Regions from separate parts of the Homo sapiens genome. Here region 2 is linked to region 1. The links come from fine-mapping of genetic effects on gene expression. Tissue or cell type: sun-exposed skin. Region 1 holds a variant in brackets; the other region holds the start of a gene. All regions are shown on one strand. Distances are from middle to middle.

Region 1 (8,105 bases):
TCCCCGCCCCCTCCCCAGACTTTGATTTAGTAACCGAATTCGCAAGGAATCAGCATGTTTAAATTGTAAAGAAACATTTGTATATTCCGTTTGTACATAATAACGGATTCAGCTTTGAAAAAAATCAAATTAATTCTGTTGTGCTTCCTTCCTTTTCCACTAGTTGTTGGTTTAACAGACTGGTATTTATTCTTAAGAATAAGTTTATTTAACATTCTTATATTCTTGAGAATATATTGATTTTACTAAATATACTCATGTATTTACAAAACTAACATAAAAACTTTTTCATCTGCAAGTCATTTTCATCCGGTATTTCCGTAACTTTTCTCATAATGCCTTGTACTCTAGAGAAGAAACATCCGTGCATTTTGGTGTCCAGTTCTGTGTCCCTTCGTGAGGCGTTAGCGTTCCAGATGAGGGCAGTTAGGATATTGTGAGTCTAGAAAGCATGTCATTGGAAAAACACTTGAGAAAAAAATGGAGGAGGTGAGCCAGAAAACAGAGAAAGCTAAGAAGTGCTTAAATACAGGATGCTTTTATCCATAATAAGGGAGAAGAACCAGCATCAGGAAGGGAAAGGGAGAATTCAGGGATCAAACTGTAAAGAGTTCTTGTAGCTTTGAGATTCAGACTCGTTTGCACACAAGGCTTTTATGATTTTTCTCCTATTTTTCTTTCTAGCTTTATCTCCCACAACTTAAGCACACCCCCTTTAACTCCAGTTCCTGGAATGAATTGCCCTTTTTGTGCCTTCTTGTTTGCACTCATGCCTTCCCTTTGGCCAGGAATAAACCACATCTATCCCAAATAACATCTTATGATGATGGTGGTCGAGTTGTTGACGTCTGTCCCCATGGATTTAGTTGTTAACCCCATTTAAGGGATTGAGCAGTATCATTCTTAGTAATTGTGAAGTCTTTACATAAGATCATGAGAATGGATAATCAGCTGTTGGTGGCCCCAGACAGCAAGAAGGTCCTTAGGGAGACGAGTGGGTGAGCTCATCCCACCTACCAAATGCCAGGCAAGAGGTTTGGGTGGTCCAGGCTGCTCAGTGAGATGGGCGTTGGTCATTTGCAAGCCTAGGCATCTGTGACTTGCGAGCCTGATTCCAAAAGGCAGGCAGGCGGGGATTTCTGAAAGAAGCAGCCACAGAATGGGTGCTCTACAACTTTTAGAAAAGAAAGTACCACCTTTCCATTTAGGTGCAGATTTGTCACAGTCATTAAACAGTCTTCAGTTTTTCTTCTCATCCTTTAGTACTAATAACAACATTCATATTAATAACAGCATATACATATTTGTTGAGGACCCAAGAAGTGCTTTACCTGGGTCTCCTTGGTTTTCTAGTAATTGCTAATGTGACCACAGTGCTGCCCTTCATCTCCTACCAGAGTGAACATGCAGAAGTGGCCTACAGTCATCTCAAATGCTAGGTGGATGTCATTGGTCTCAAGGCAAATGCTCCCTCACTCTCCTTTTCTCAGCTGTCCTGAGCTTCCAGTTCGGGCTGTGGTTCTGCGATGAGTTCTGCACCTAGATCCTTCCGTGCTGTCTCGGCTAGAGGAGGGAGAATTTTCTCTTTGGTGAGAGGTCACAGCTGTCACTCTGCTAAATCAAGACAGCCGTTCTTTACTGGGATTCCAAAGATCTTAAAGAGTCACCCAAAAAGGAATCAAAGGTGGTTAGGGACAGAGGAGAAAAGGTCAGGATTAGCCTAAGGTTTAGCTACTTTCCTGTTTTATTTATAATATTTTTGTTGTTGTTGTTTTTAAATGTCCTGTGGTATTTTTGATTGTTTCTGTGCTGCTCAGCATTCTTCCGAGGTCAAGTTGCTTTTGGTAAATAGTGATGCTGCGTGTGGTGGTTCCCATGGGTGCTGGTCTCTCTGTGTCTTACCAGCTTTTCAAACTCCATGTATGTCATCTTTTCTAGACCACTCTGGCTCACATCATAGCCAGCAACAGCAAGAAACATAGCATAAGGTTTGTGACATTATCTGCAACAAATGCCAAGACAAATGATGTGCGAGATGTCATAAAACAAGCTCAAAATGAAAAGAGCTTTTTCAAAAGGAAAACCATCCTTTTTATTGATGAGATTCATCGGTTCAATAAATCTCAGCAGGTATATTAACTTCCTTCTACCTTTTGGTCGTTGTGAACATCAAACAATATAAAGTGTGTGAGATCACTATACAAACGCTAGAGACTTACGAGCTTTGTTTACAAAGAAGCGTAGGCTTGTGAACCCATCTCCTTCAAGCCTATTTCTCCATACATTTCTTAGTGTTTTTTGATAACAAGAAAATGCTTTCTCTATCTGATAAATGAAATGGTTGGCATATCCCTGAGCTATACGTATCAGAAAAGCACCTTTGAATCAAATTTCCAGTTTTAGGAATTTTTAATCTAAATACTAGGAGTCATTGTGAACAGTAAAATAATGATTTTAAGGTCATTATTTTAATGGGTTTTTAAAAATTACTTTAACAGTATTTTTATTTTGAAAATTAAACAATCGGTATTTTCTGTAACTCCAGGCTCTGTCTTCAAGGTGAATGTTGGAAGAGCTAATGATTACTGTTTATTTAAATGGGTTTCTGAAATAAAAGGACACAAGCTATTTTTATAAACAAAGCCACTTAGGGATTTAAAAAAAAATAAACATTAAAATTTTATTGGGCTGAGATCTGAGAGCTATACTCTAAATAAAAAAAAATTAAATTTTTAGGCATAACTTTAAAAAATTTTTTTTTGTAACTTTTTAATCATACATAGAATATTTCACAAAACTCTACTGAGCCTTTTTTGAACCTTTTTGAATAAAAAGACCCTTTTAAAGTTCTGACGAGGCGTTAGCATTCTAGGTTTCATATTGGACCACTGACTCATCTTAGTATTTTTTCCCCATAAAACAGCATAATAGGAATAATAATAATATGATTGAGTGCTTGCTGTGGAAGAAGATTCTGGAAGTGTTAATGTTTTTGTGTGTTCTTGTCTATAAATAAATAGCTGTTACATATAAGCTATGTGCCAGTTCAGCCTTTGGTAGAAGATGGTTTTCTGAGTAAAGAAATCATTTATGTTGAAACTAAGCTAGAATTCTACTTAAAGCTATTAGTCTACCAGCAAGAGATCAGGCTTGGACGGGCATTCCAGAAGATGTGTTTCAGACTTAAAAGCAAGAGTTGTACTCCCCCAAATATTGCATCTATATTCAGTGAATATAAGGCTGCTGCTATTCCTGAACTCGAAAGATAAAAATGAGGAAAAGGAAGGAAGGGATAGCCAACTTACATAGGATTCTGCAGGTGGCTGTTGACTGGAATCACTTTTTTCTGTTTTCCTCCCATGATTAGGACACTTTCCTTCCTCACGTGGAATGTGGGACGATCACTCTGATTGGGGCAACCACTGAAAACCCTTCCTTCCAGGTCAACGCTGCTCTTCTGAGCCGCTGTCGAGTGATTGTTCTTGAGAAGCTTCCAGTAGAGGCAATGGTGACTATTTTAATGCGAGCGATCAACTCCCTGGGAATCCACGTCCTAGACTCTAGCCGTCCCACTGACCCTCTGAGCCACAGCAGCAACAGCAGCTCAGAGTAAGTTGACAGTGTGCAGCGTCCTGGGGGCACACACCTCCCAGAGAGTCTCCTGGCAGGGGGCCAGAAAGGGCCGGGCGTCAGTGAGGAGAGGGTGGGGACAGAGAAGAAATGTTGATCCGCCCGTAATGAAAATAAAAGAGGAGGGAAATGTTCGATTATACCTAACAAAGTTATCCCTGCACACTTGAAGATGCATTTTCCAGCCTCTAATATGTGTTTCTATAATTCTTCAAGCTTTAACTTTGCTTTGTTGTTTTGGTTCTTGGGTGTTTGCTTTTGTGCTTAGGCTTCTATGGGAAGCCTTATTGATGATTTGAAAGGCTTTATGTCCCTCATTGAATAGAACAAATAGATAGATAAATACTTTCTAGACTTACCATACAACTCTTTTGAGCATTGTACTCATGTTTCAATTTCTTTTTAACCTGCAGTTTAGCATTTTGTTAAAAAAAAAAAATCAAGTAAAAATTAACTTGTAACCTTAAAATTATGTAATCCTTTTTGTGTAGTTGAAACTCAGTTTCATGAAAGTAAAGGAATGTTAACTGAATATGACATTATAGGCTGTCCCTATCCTTTTAGTGACCTATTTCTGCATCATGAGTACCACATGAGCTCGTTAATGCACCAAGTGTATATCATAGATAATTTGATTTCTTGGGTCAGGGGTTTTCCTTTTTTTTAATATTAGAACATATTCTTCAG[A/T]TGGTATTTGTTCATACGTTGGCTGAAATACTGCCATGGAACATAATCTGGTGTGATGAGAGGCTATTGCCCACCTCCTCCTGCTGTGGACTCTGCAGCTGCTCGTGCCTGCCCTGAGGCCAAGTTCTGGAGCCACTTTTCTGTGAGGATTAAAGTACAAGGCATAGTTTAGGCTCAGGGTTTAGGTTTCACCAGGCTCTCCCTATGTGTCTGGCCCCATTTGCTCCTGTCTGAGATGGAGGGAGAATTCTGCTGTGTCTAATGAAAGCATTGAAACATTTGGCCCGTGGACCACTGGGTAGGACAGAGTGGCCTTGTTTTGGAATACCGTTGTGATGGGGATAGCCATTACATCTGTGGCCACAAGCAGTGTGTGGAACCTGTGGTATCAGCCACATGGACTCATACTCAGAAGTGCTTTATGTGGTGGGCATTTGTCAGAGCCTAAGGGGGCTGCCAGCTCCTCATATGTAGTACAGGTTGAGTATCCCAAATCTGAAATCCAAAATGCTCCCAAATCTAAAGCTTTTTGAGCACCTTCATGATGCTGTGAAAGGAAATGCTTATTGGAGCACTTCAGATTTCTGGATTTTGGGTGCTCATCTGGTAAGTATATAATGCAAATATTCTAAAATCAAAAAAATAGGAAATTCAGACCACTTCTGGTCCCAGGCACTTCAGATGTGGGATACTCATGTGTAGGTTTCCCGTAACAGAATTCTCATTACAGACGCATAGAACCACATGGTAAAGACAAATTGAAAGAAAAGGGGGGAAATCCTAACATGTTTCATGTTTCTGTGTGTTCTTTGCTCTGTGTACTGGTTATCGTAATGTATCTGCAACTTAATATTCTGCATGTGTACTTGTCTGGGGTGATTTTTATTGATTTCATGTCATCAGTTCATGAAATAGAACATGAAATCAATAATTAATATTGATGACATGAAGTCAATAATAATCAGTTGTTACTCAGATACCCTCAGGTTTTTTCACCTCTCCCCAGTCACTGCCGTGCAGGAATTTAAAGGAAATGAGAAAGGCGGCAGCCAAGGAGCTCATCCTTGTGAGAAGAATTTCTATATTTTATTATTAAAAATCCTCAGGTGATTTGCAGGCACATTAAAGTTTGAGAAGATCAAGTGAAATAATTAAGATTTAGTTATTGAAACTGATATAACAATGAGCTAGAGATTGTTTATCTGCTAAAATTGCTTTTCAGAGAAAACTTCCCATATCCAGTAAATGATTTACTATTTCCACTACCGCTTGCTTAGACTTGATCCCAATTATATTTGCTATCTTGTGTCCCCCGCTTTCCTGGGAAGACTGTGAGGACAGGAGCTTGTCCCTGTTCATATCCCCAGCACAGTGCCTGGCACACATTATGTGCTTTGTGAATGGTTTGGAAATGAATAAATCCTAGCTTTCGATATGAGAAAAGTAGTTTAATATGTTTTGCATTATCCAGCATAAGGGATAATTACCCAGGTATCAAGAGCCTTTTTCTTTAATACTATTGCCCTTTTCATCAGCAGCAAGCAGAGTAAAATGAAAGAATGTTAAGCTTAAAACCATTAATTGGTCAACTTGTTAGCAATTCTAACAAGAAGTTAAGTTAGGAGATATCATAGGCCACAGAAAGAACTCTTACAAGTGATTTCCGAATACAAGTACCTGCCACCCCAACTGTCAGGGATAATTAAGAGTGGATTGGGATGTCTTTTAGTTGTTTTAGGTAAAATTTTGCTTTCCAATCCCTGTTGACAGCTCTATATACATCCTTGTGCATATAAATCAGATTTGGTGACACTAATCTAGTTGAAAGAAAAGACTTCCAACCCCATATACTTACTTTCTCTCTCCAGGAAGCTATTGGTGTGCATTTGTATTCTTGTGTCATGTTTTGGTGCCCTAGATAGCAACTAGAACATTTACAGAGAAGTCCCAGGCTGTTGAACTGCACGTGAGAGGAGGTGAGCAGGGCACTGGATTTGGAAACTAATCAAGCTGCCGCTTAGCCGTTCTTGATTGCACTTGAGGAATTGTGAGTTGTCACACAGTATACTCATGTAAGTGATAAATTCCCATTAAAGTGAAATAAGTGTTCTTTTTTTAAAAAAAAATTCCCTCCTGTAGTTATTATTCAGTCAAAATTGAAGCTCCTGCATATGCTAGGCATTGGCTGAGGGTTGAAAAGCTTGTTCCTGTGCCTTCAGAGGGAGCGCAGTATGATGAAGGCTAGGGGAGCAGGTCCACTTCCAGTGCCACGCTTATACGCCAAGTGCAGTGGGCGTAGAGAAGCAGCATTCAGAATATGTGAAATCCAGTATTTCACCTCCTAGATGAGGGGATGCGGAGTTGAGTTTTGAAGGATAAGCAGAATTTAACTGAGTGAAATAGAAAGCTCATTGTCTACGCCATAGTTGCTTTGGTTTGTATGGCTAAGCAGTAGTGTTCAGGTATTTTGCTCTCCCAAAAATATTTGGATCACATGATACAAACAGTGAAGATTCTGTCTGCTCTGGGTTAATTTTGGAGGCCAGGAAAAAAATGTCCATGATTCATGATACGAAGAATGAGCTTGTGCTGCTGAAAATGAAAAAGTAAGCTAGCATTTCGTCATCCTGCACTACTTGCTGCTTTGAAGGAATATAGATTCCTAGGTCATAGAATATATACATAGTCAAAAACACTCCTAAAGAATCAATTATTTGTGAACCAGATAGAGTATACAAGTCTTTGGAGATCAAGAGAGTGAAATGAGAAGCCATAACTGCCCTCTGCCTAGCTAGGCTGAGTTCCGAGAGGTGGTTGGAAGACAGAAAGTGGCGTCTGTCCCTGGGTAAGGGCTGTGGCGTAACTGGGTGTGGGGCTTTTCTCTAATCATCTGGAGAGGAGAGCCCCTGACAAGCTGGCCCCCAAACAAGGTGGCTATGGATTCTTCTTTTTATAAAAGTTTAAAGTGTCTTAAATAACCTTTTGTGCCATTGAATAGAAAGAAAGGTAGTGGAACTCCAGAATACAAGGGATTGGCCAGAATAAATGGTTGGTATAGAGTAGATGTCAATCTTTTTATTTAAAAATTTTTTAAGTACATTAATACAGTACATTAACATAGCTGTTTTAATACAAGGGTGCATTAAAATAATGCCATAAAAGCACCAGCAGCCAGAACCACAGATCTCATGGTCCTTGGATGCACTTCCTGTGGCTGCTGTAACAATTGCCACAAACTGGGTGGCTCAGAACACAGAGCTTTATCCTCACAGTTCTGAAAGCCAGAAGACCAGAATCAAGGTATCAACAAGGCGATGCTCTCATCCAGCATCTGATGGCCCTTGGCATTCCTTGGCTTATGACTATGTCACTCCAGTCTCTACATCCATCTTCACATGGTGGCCTTCTTCTCTGTGTCCTTACGTCTTCTCTTTTTCTGTGTTTTGTAAGGACATTTGTCATTGGATTTAAGGTACACTCTAAATCCAGGATGATTTCATCTTGAGACCCTTAGTTACATCTACAAAGACCCTATTTCCAAATAAAGTCACAGTCACAGGTTCCAGGGATTAGGACTTACATCTTTTGGGGTCACTATTCAACCCACTACAGACCCCTACCAAGTATAATGTAATTTGGAAAGACATGTGCCTCCATGGGATTAAACAGAAAGACGTCGTCATCTGAAATGTACCTTCTCTCTTTGTGGAGAAAGTCAGTTTTGTTTTGCTTTGCTTTCACTCTGATGTTATGGAAGCGGCAGCATCTGGGGCTCTGCCTTGGATATG
Region 2 (8,105 bases), 130 kb after region 1:
GGATTCATAGGGATTTTTTCCTCCCTTCTACTTTTATTTTTTAAAAATTTTTATAGTGGACTTTTACCAGTTATATAATGAAGGAAAAATAAATAATTCTTTAAAATATTTCTGCTGCCATTAACGCTTCCCTGCATGTTACAGGTAGCAACGTGTACTCAGTATGTTTGGTGTCTCACAAGCATCCAGTTGAACACTGGAGCCATGGAGAGAGCTCAGTCTCACACCTAAGAAGGTACCCAGACAATTTTGGTGCTCTCAAAAAAGCTTTCTATAAGGGTTTATCAGTGAGCCTAAAACATAGAAAAAGATCATACAGATTTCAGCATAAGGAACTTCAGAATCAAAATGGAGTCACTAATATTAAAAAAACAAAACCAAAAACCTTTGACAAACAGACAGGGAAGGCCATGAAGAGAGGGTTCTCACGCTTGAATGCCTGATAACACAACTATCACAAAGGACTCTAAAAACCTACGCTCTTGCACAAAGGCCATCACAGCCTTACACAACAAAATACTTGTGCAAGGACATCTACCCAGGAACTCCCCATCCAACCTCACACTGACATCACCTTCGTTATTGATCTTTTTGCCAAAAATAATTATTTCAAAGGAATTATGTAATCCTCTTTACTTTTTCCTTTAAAAATCTTAGTGTTATTTCACCTCCCTGAATGTGCACATAGCTTGCCATGGCATGCGTATTTTCATTGCAATGCCCTATTTCCAAATATATATATCTTTTAGAGAGCCTCTCTGTGCTTATTATTAAGGCTGGTAGCCTTTACACATAAACCCTCCCTTCTTCACACAATGAGCTGGGAAATTATTAAAATGAGTAATTCACTATTGAAAAGCGTCATCAAAGAAAAAGACAGTCATATTGAACAAAGGACAACTCCCATGATGAAGGCGTGTCCAGCGGCCTGCACTCAGGGATGGCGCTTTTCGGTTTCATCTCACGTGTATGTCTCCTCTCCTTTCCACAAAGGTCTGGGGACAAGCACTGATCTTGAATCATTTCCACAGGTTCTCTGAATGTTGGTGAGACTGAGCTGAGCAGTACCTGCACAGTGTGCAGCTGTAATGAAGCACTTGCCCTGGAATCCTTCTTGCAAATTTCTGTTGATGCCCTCCCTGAGCTGTTGGTACAGAAACAACTTGAAACAGGTATTAACCTTCCTTACCAATGAAAGTTTAGTTACAAAGTCTCTTGCTCCAAAAAAGAGGTAGTTCTTTGCAACTTATGTTTCAAATAATTTCAGTGTCATTTTCTAAAGAAAGATTCTGCGCTAGGACAAGACAGCTTGGATGGTCTTTTCCAAGGGATTAACCGAGGAAAGTTTCCCCCAAATAAATCTCGGTGGAGCAGAGTTCCTGCCTCCCTGCCCTGCCCCACTTCTTCCCCAGTGGACCCCGCCTCCCTGAAACGGCCAGTGCACACTCGGGCCCCAGTCCTGCCCTCCTTTCTCAGTGGCTCTGGAGTGTGAGTGTGAAGCTGGTGACAGAACACGCAGCCCAGGCCAGTCCCTGCTCCTGGCGGACGGGCAAGCTTACCTGGGCCATCTGGGTTGCGGTGTTTCCCTTTGCCCCTAGGAGAACCATGGCCAGGGCAGAGGAGATGCTCACAGGAGAACAGAACACGTTGTGCGAAGGGTTATCTTGACACAGTATCTTTAAAAGGCGTATGGCAAAAGTACCACTTGCATTAGAAAGAGTTTCCATGATGCAGGGCCTGGAAGGGAAGAATAAAGAGAAATGCAGTTTCCACACTCCCTGAATGTTACTGACCTACTTACTACAGGGCAATTTTGGAATCGTACTTTTTGTTTTCTTCTTAAAGTTCGTAAGTATTTTAAATTGGAGAAAAATTTATTTTCTGTTAGTCTCCGGCCAAAAATTAAGTGCAAATGTTAAGGTAATTAGCTAAGTGTGGTGATGGCAGCAGCTCAAACCAGCAATAGCAACAGAACTGGCTCGCCTGCAGAGCTCGCTCTCTCACACACACACACACACACACACACAGAGCTGGAAGCAGTGAACTCCAATTCTTTCCGTAAGGACCAGATCGTCCCATCTGAGGAGGAGAATGGGGTCAGGGAGGAGGAGGAAAATGCTGTTCTTATTCTTGCATGCATTTACAAAGAGTCCTTGTGAGATTTTCAACTGGGCACCAGCCTGTGGCCTCCCTGACATTCAGCTGATACACAAAAGACACTGAGATGCTGAATCTGACCCAGAGACAGACAGCTGTGAGGCAAGGAGCTGTCATCCATAGAGGCAAGTGAGTGCGTCCTGGACAGCCGGGGTGGAGCCAGGCTGCTCCCAGTCAGCCAGCCTGCCCCAGGCCCACGCGGCCTGACATCCCAGTAACTCCATTCAGAGCTCCTGCCCATCACCAGCTTCTGCACATCATGTGACCCTTGAACACAGAGTGGGACTTGGACAATTGTGTGGTTTTGCTTCGTTTTGTTTTGTTTTTAATGTGCTTCCTAACTCAGAAACATCTATTTGGGAGCTTTACTCATTACTCCCAGCAAAAGCCATGAGTGTAGATTGTGCGTGAGAGGAAGGATCTGATCCCTGCAGAACGCCAGAATGGAAAGGCAAGAAACAGCCCAAGGTGAGGAGTAAAACAGGCGAGAACAAGGAGGTGGTGCCTGTGAAGCCACTGGAGACCAAAGTGTGAATGTGAGGGGGTGGGTCTCTTGGCCACAGGCCTGAAACCAAATGAACCCCCACCCCCAGGCTGCAGTTCCCAGTGCACTTGGAAATGAGACCCTGACTCCTCCAGGTGAGCCTGGGAGACCTCCCTGACTCCTTTCCATCTCCCCCTCCTCCCCCACACCCATCCCCAAGGCCTGCCCTCTACGCCCACATTTCTTCCCACTTCGGATTCTGTGCCTGGTCTAATGCCCAGGCCCCCTCCCGAGCCTCTGGTCTCCCTAGAGCCACTCCCCACTGTCGGGACACCTCATCTGTGCTCCCCAAAACGCCACGCAAAGCGCTGGAGAGCCTTGGACAATGAACACAACCCACTCCCCCAGCCACCCCCACGCCACAGCCACACGGCACCTCAGAAAGCGGTGTCTTAATCCTCTTGTCCTTCCTCCTAAATCTCCCAGGGGCCCTTAGGCCCCTCAAAGGTGGCCGCTCAAAGCCACCTTGTTAAAACGGTGTCTTACCCACCTGCCCCCTCCCTTGATCCAGACTCACTGAGGTCACAGCCTCCACCTCTGGCCATCCTGAACCCCTCCCAAAGTCAACTCTTCACAAACACTGTTGGTCCCCCTTAGAAGGCCCCATGTCCATCACGGCATTAATTCCACTCACCCTCAAACACCGCGGCCCGGAGGCTCTGATTCCCACCCTGGAGGAGGTTCTCTTGACCCCGCCGGCGCGACCCTCCCCAGCACGACCCTTCCTCCCGAAGGTGATTCCTCATCTTGCTGGTGGTCCCCACAGACCGCAGGCTCTGCAGGCGAGCGCTGAGCCTGGCTCTGCAGATTCTCAGGACCCCATTCGTTTAGCTGAATTATTGAAAGAATTAAGATGGATAAGAGTGCTCAGATTTGAAACTCCGAGACTGGTGGCTTTATTTTTTTGTTGTTGTTGGTGGTGGTTTTTTTGTGTTTTTCTTTTTTTTGTTTTGAGACGAAGTCTCACTCTGTCTGCCAGGCTGGAGTGCAGTGGCGCAATCCCAGCTCACTGCAACCTCTGCCTCCCGAGTTGAAGTGATTTTCCTGCCTCAGCACATAGCTGACATTATTACAGGCGTGGGCCACCATGCCCGGCTAATTTCTGTATTTTTAGTAGAGACCGGTTTTCACCACGTTTGCCAGACTGGTCTCGAACTCCTGATCTCCAAGGATCCGACCGCCTTGGCCTCCCAAAGTGCTGGGATTACAGGCGTGAGCCACTGCGCCCGGCCGAGACTGGTGACTGTAAAGGACAGTGAAGAAGCAGGACAGACGTCATCCTGCGGATCCCAGAGCAGAGAAGAGCAGTGAGAACACAGGGCCGGCAGGTGGGGAGGAGGCTGCAGGGGAGGGCTTCGGCCAGGGAAGGGCAGCGAGGAGACATCCGGGAGGGAGGCGTCCGCGGTGGCTGTGGGCCGCCAAGGCGGAGACCGGCTGCCGCTCCCAGGCACCCCCCAGAGACCGTTGCTGACCCCACCGAGAAGGCACCGCCTCCCCGGGGCTCTTGGCTGAGCGACCTCTCCTGTCCTCCGGTCCCATCACTCGGTGGCAGCCGGTGGACCTGAAGCTCGCCACTCCCGTCCCCTACCCCAGCCGTGCGCGGGGACGCCCTCACCTGCCACCTAGTCCAGCGCTGCCGCCGTCTCCGTGCCGCGCTCCGAGCCTGGACGCCGACCCCCGAGGCGCAGGACCCGGCCCTGCTGCTGCGCTCGCCGCGGACTCCCGCTAGGGCCTCTGCAGGCACCGCTTTTATACCGCAGGGTCGGGCGCCTCCCACGCTTTCTGCGTTTAGGCGGAGCCTGGCGGGACCAGCGGGGGCGCCGCGCGTGGTGGCCGAGGTCAGAGCTGGGAGCAGGGTCAGGTCAGGGTCCCCCCAGTCCGCCCCGCCCGGGGCGATGTCCGCCAATGCTCCCGCCAGCCTGAGGCCGGCCAGGTTCCCAAGGCGCGCGCTCGGCCTCACCCACCCCCGGCGCCAGGGCCTCTTCAGGACCGGGTTCAGAACCTGACAGCCCAGAGAAGTAGGTTGGGAGCCTGCGGCGTCCAGGGCCTCCGCGCGAAGAAACAAGGCGTCTGCGGGAAAGGAGACGGAGCCTGGAACCCTGGGCTTTTGTACTTAAGGAAGCGAAGGTCGGGTGACAGCCAAGCTCCGTGTTCCAGTGGGAAGGTCCCATGGGTCTGTGTTCCACGCCTCTTGTCATGAATATGGGGGATTCACTTAGAACCAAAGCATTTGTTCCAGGTCCCACCACTAACTAGTACTAGTCCTGGGCCCAGAACCAGGCGTCCTCACTCCTAGTACCCAAGCCCTTCTCTAGCCACAGGTGTTTGGGCTGCGGTGTGGTGTAAGCAGCCCCATTTTCCCGCAAAGTGATGGGAAGAGACACTGAGTCACACGGGCTCAGGACACTCCTTGTGTCCTCTATCAGGGGGTCCAGAGGCAGGGACTCGGGGGAGTTGATGCAGCAGTTCGTGATGTCATCAGATATCCCCCCACCCCCTTCCATCTCAGGCTGGACTCAATTGGAAGCATTTCATGTTGGCACGGTGACGTCCAGAGGAAGGGAACAGACAAATGGCTCTCTCTGGAGCACGGAGCGTCGCCCAGAAGCCGTGCCCTCCTGTTTCAAATTGACCAGAATTAGAGCTTTCTCCTGAGGGCCTGAATTAGGGAGAAGCAAGGCAGGTGCCTAAGGCACAAAATTTCAGGAGGGCCACACGCATAGGTGCCAACCCTGCATTTGCGCGGCCCTGAGAATCAGAGCCTCCTTCAATTTGACACCCTAGGTGCCTAGCTTGTTTTTAAAAATAAAACCTTTATTAAAAGACAATTCACGGACCATAATATGCATCCTTTTAAAGCATACAATTCAATAGTTCTTGGTATATTGACAAAGCTGTCCAACTCTCACCACTATCTAACTCCAGAAGGTTTTCATCACCCTAAAAGGAACTGTGATACCCATTAGCAATTATTCTCCATTTCCTCCTTCCCACAACCCCTGGCTTCTGGGAGAGGCTCCGACCTCCAGATTTCTTTTCTGGCCCTGCGGATTGACCGACTGTGAAGATTTCATGCAAATTGAATCATACAATATGTGGTCTTTCCTGACTGCCTTCTTTCACTTAGCATAATGTTTTCAAGGGTCATTCTTGATGGTTCCAGGTAGCATTTGTTAGTACTTTATTTCTTTTTATAACTGAATAATACTTATAAAAATATTATAAAATCAAAAGGGAAATTAGAATGTATTTTGAAATTAATAAAAAATGAAAATAAAAACATCAAAATTTGTAGGATGTTATTAAGTCAGCTTTGGGGAAATTTTGCAGCATGAAATGCCTATATTAGGAGAGGAGAAAGGCTTCAAATCAATGACCTCAGTTTCTACCTTCAAAAACTAGAAAAAGTATAAATACATTGAACACATAATCAGTAGAAAAGAAGAAATAATAAAGATTAGAGAATAAATCAATGATATAGAAAACTTTATAATGATAGAGACAATTGATTAAACAAAAAGCTGTTATTTATTTATCCACTTATTTATTTTTTTGAGGTGGAGTCTTGCTCTATCGCCTAGGCTGGAGAACAATGGCGTGATCTTGGCTCACTGCAACCTCCACCTCCCAATTCCAGCGATTCTCCTGCCTCAGCCTCCCAAGTAGCTGGGACTATAGGCATGCATCACCATACCCAGCTAATTTTTGTATTTTTAGTAGAGATGGGGTTTCACCATGTTGGCCAGGCTGGTCACGAACTCCTGACATCAGGTGATCCTCCCGCCTCAGCCTCCCAAAGTGCTGGGATTACAGGCGTGAACCACTGTGCCTGGCCATACCCATGAATTTTAAGGCAACAAATGGGGGCATCGTTGTCAGTGCCATTGCAAGAAAGTGTCTGAGTAAACGTGGACCATGATGGCATAGTGCAAACATGTTAGCTGCCTCTGTGCTCCGAGGCCTAGAGGAAACGTCCTTTCAATCCAAATCATGTGACCAGCGATGGAAAATGGGTTTAGGAAAGGATAAAAACACAGAACTATGAAAACAAGGTTATTTTAGCTTTTCCTTTCCTTTCTCCTCTTTCCCCCACTAAAAATTGTATGGGGGGGTGGGGCATGAAATCTGTTCAGAAATAGCTAAGAATCAAGAGATTTTGCAATTACCTATATTTTTCATTTAAAATCTCTTCTACTTTATTACTTTAAGAAAGTCACAACATATCACAAAAATATTTCTTTATCTGATTGCTCATCATGGTTTTCCCAGATAGAAAATACACAGGGCCCCAGAGGAAGCATTTTTCCAGGATTTTCCAACACTGTCCGGAGGAAGGGAGTCTTTGATCCTCACACCAGGTCCAAGGATTTTTCAAAAATCACTACTTCATGATCAGACAAGCCCAAGAGAAATGACAGAATCATGTTGCTGGCCTGAAAACCTGGCAAACGTGTAAGCAGACCTCCGTCACTGAGGACCCACCCAGCAGTAACTTCCTTCCTAGCTCCAAGTTCACTGCAAATAAAGTCCCTCACCACCAATGACCCAGCCGTTGTGCGTCTCTAGACTCTTCTGCATCTTTAGCAAAGGCCACATTTTCCAGCTCTACCTGTGGGCATTTGACACACTTCCTTAAAGTCCTGCAAAGAGCAAAATATGGAGCGTGGCCCTATTCATTCTGCAAAGGTTTCCACAACTTTGAAAACATTTCCCTGCCCCCAACATGTTCCTATCATGCTTGTGACACAGTCAGGTTCCATTCTAAGACTCATGCATTCAGTTAACAAAAAATAATTCGCTTCCTGCCATGGGCTTGGCTTGGCACTTGCTGGGAACTTGGTACCAAGTTGAAGACACAATATCTGGCCCAAGAGGGCAGCAGTCTGAGGGAGAGACGGCGAGCACACTGAGGTACTTCCAAGGTGCCCTGAACACCCCTAGAATGGCCCAGCCCAACACTTAAGCTCCACAGGGACTTTCCACTAAATCTTCTGTCTCCCACACCGGACTGCGAGCCTCAGGACAGCCTAACCCTCCTTTACTAATTTTTATATTAGCACACTGTACATTTGGCCACCGGTACCTCAGGTTCCACATCCACAGATTCAACCAACTGCAGATGGAAAAATTTTTTAAAAAATCAAAAAATAATACAAAATTTAAAACAATACAGTATAACGGCTATTTGTACAGCATTTACATTGTATTAGGTATTATACATAATCTAGAGATGATTTCAAGCGTATGGGAGGATGTTACACAGGTTACATTTGCATAGGTTATATGCAAACACTACGCCATGTTATATTAGGGACTTGAGGATCCGCAGAGCTCAATGTTCGCTAGGATCCTGGAATCAATCAGATACCAAGAGACAACTGTATTTGCTGAAGCGTATTTGTTG

The links. PIP is the estimated chance that this variant, and not a neighbour inherited with it, causes the effect.
Region 2: it holds the start of SERPINB9, and the variant in region 1 is fine-mapped to the expression of SERPINB9 in sun-exposed skin (GTEx, PIP above 0.99).

Annotation. Positions count from the first base shown.
Region 1 is chr6:2,766,753-2,774,857 of GRCh38, forward strand. WRNIP1 (WRN helicase interacting protein 1) reads left to right here. Exons shown (of 7, transcript NM_020135.3): 2 at 1,939-2,130; 3 at 3,368-3,609. It also overlaps a transcript of MYLK4 not described here. Among named protein-coding and RNA genes, the nearest start is that of WRNIP1, 5.4 kb to the left of the region's middle. The variant A/T (reference allele first, on the strand shown) is at 4,318.
Region 2 is chr6:2,898,885-2,906,989 of GRCh38, forward strand. SERPINB9 (serpin family B member 9) reads right to left here and starts at 4,425. Exons shown (of 7, transcript NM_004155.6): 1 at 4,317-4,425; 2 at 1,560-1,737. The coding sequence starts at 1,727. It overlaps SERPINB9-AS1 (SERPINB9 antisense RNA 1), which reads left to right. Exons shown (of 5, transcript NR_110841.1): 3 at 145-235; 4 at 1,032-1,172; 5 at 1,599-1,792. RefSeq lists an enhancer at 3,889-4,390 and silencers at 4,101-4,150, 4,391-4,470, 4,571-4,620.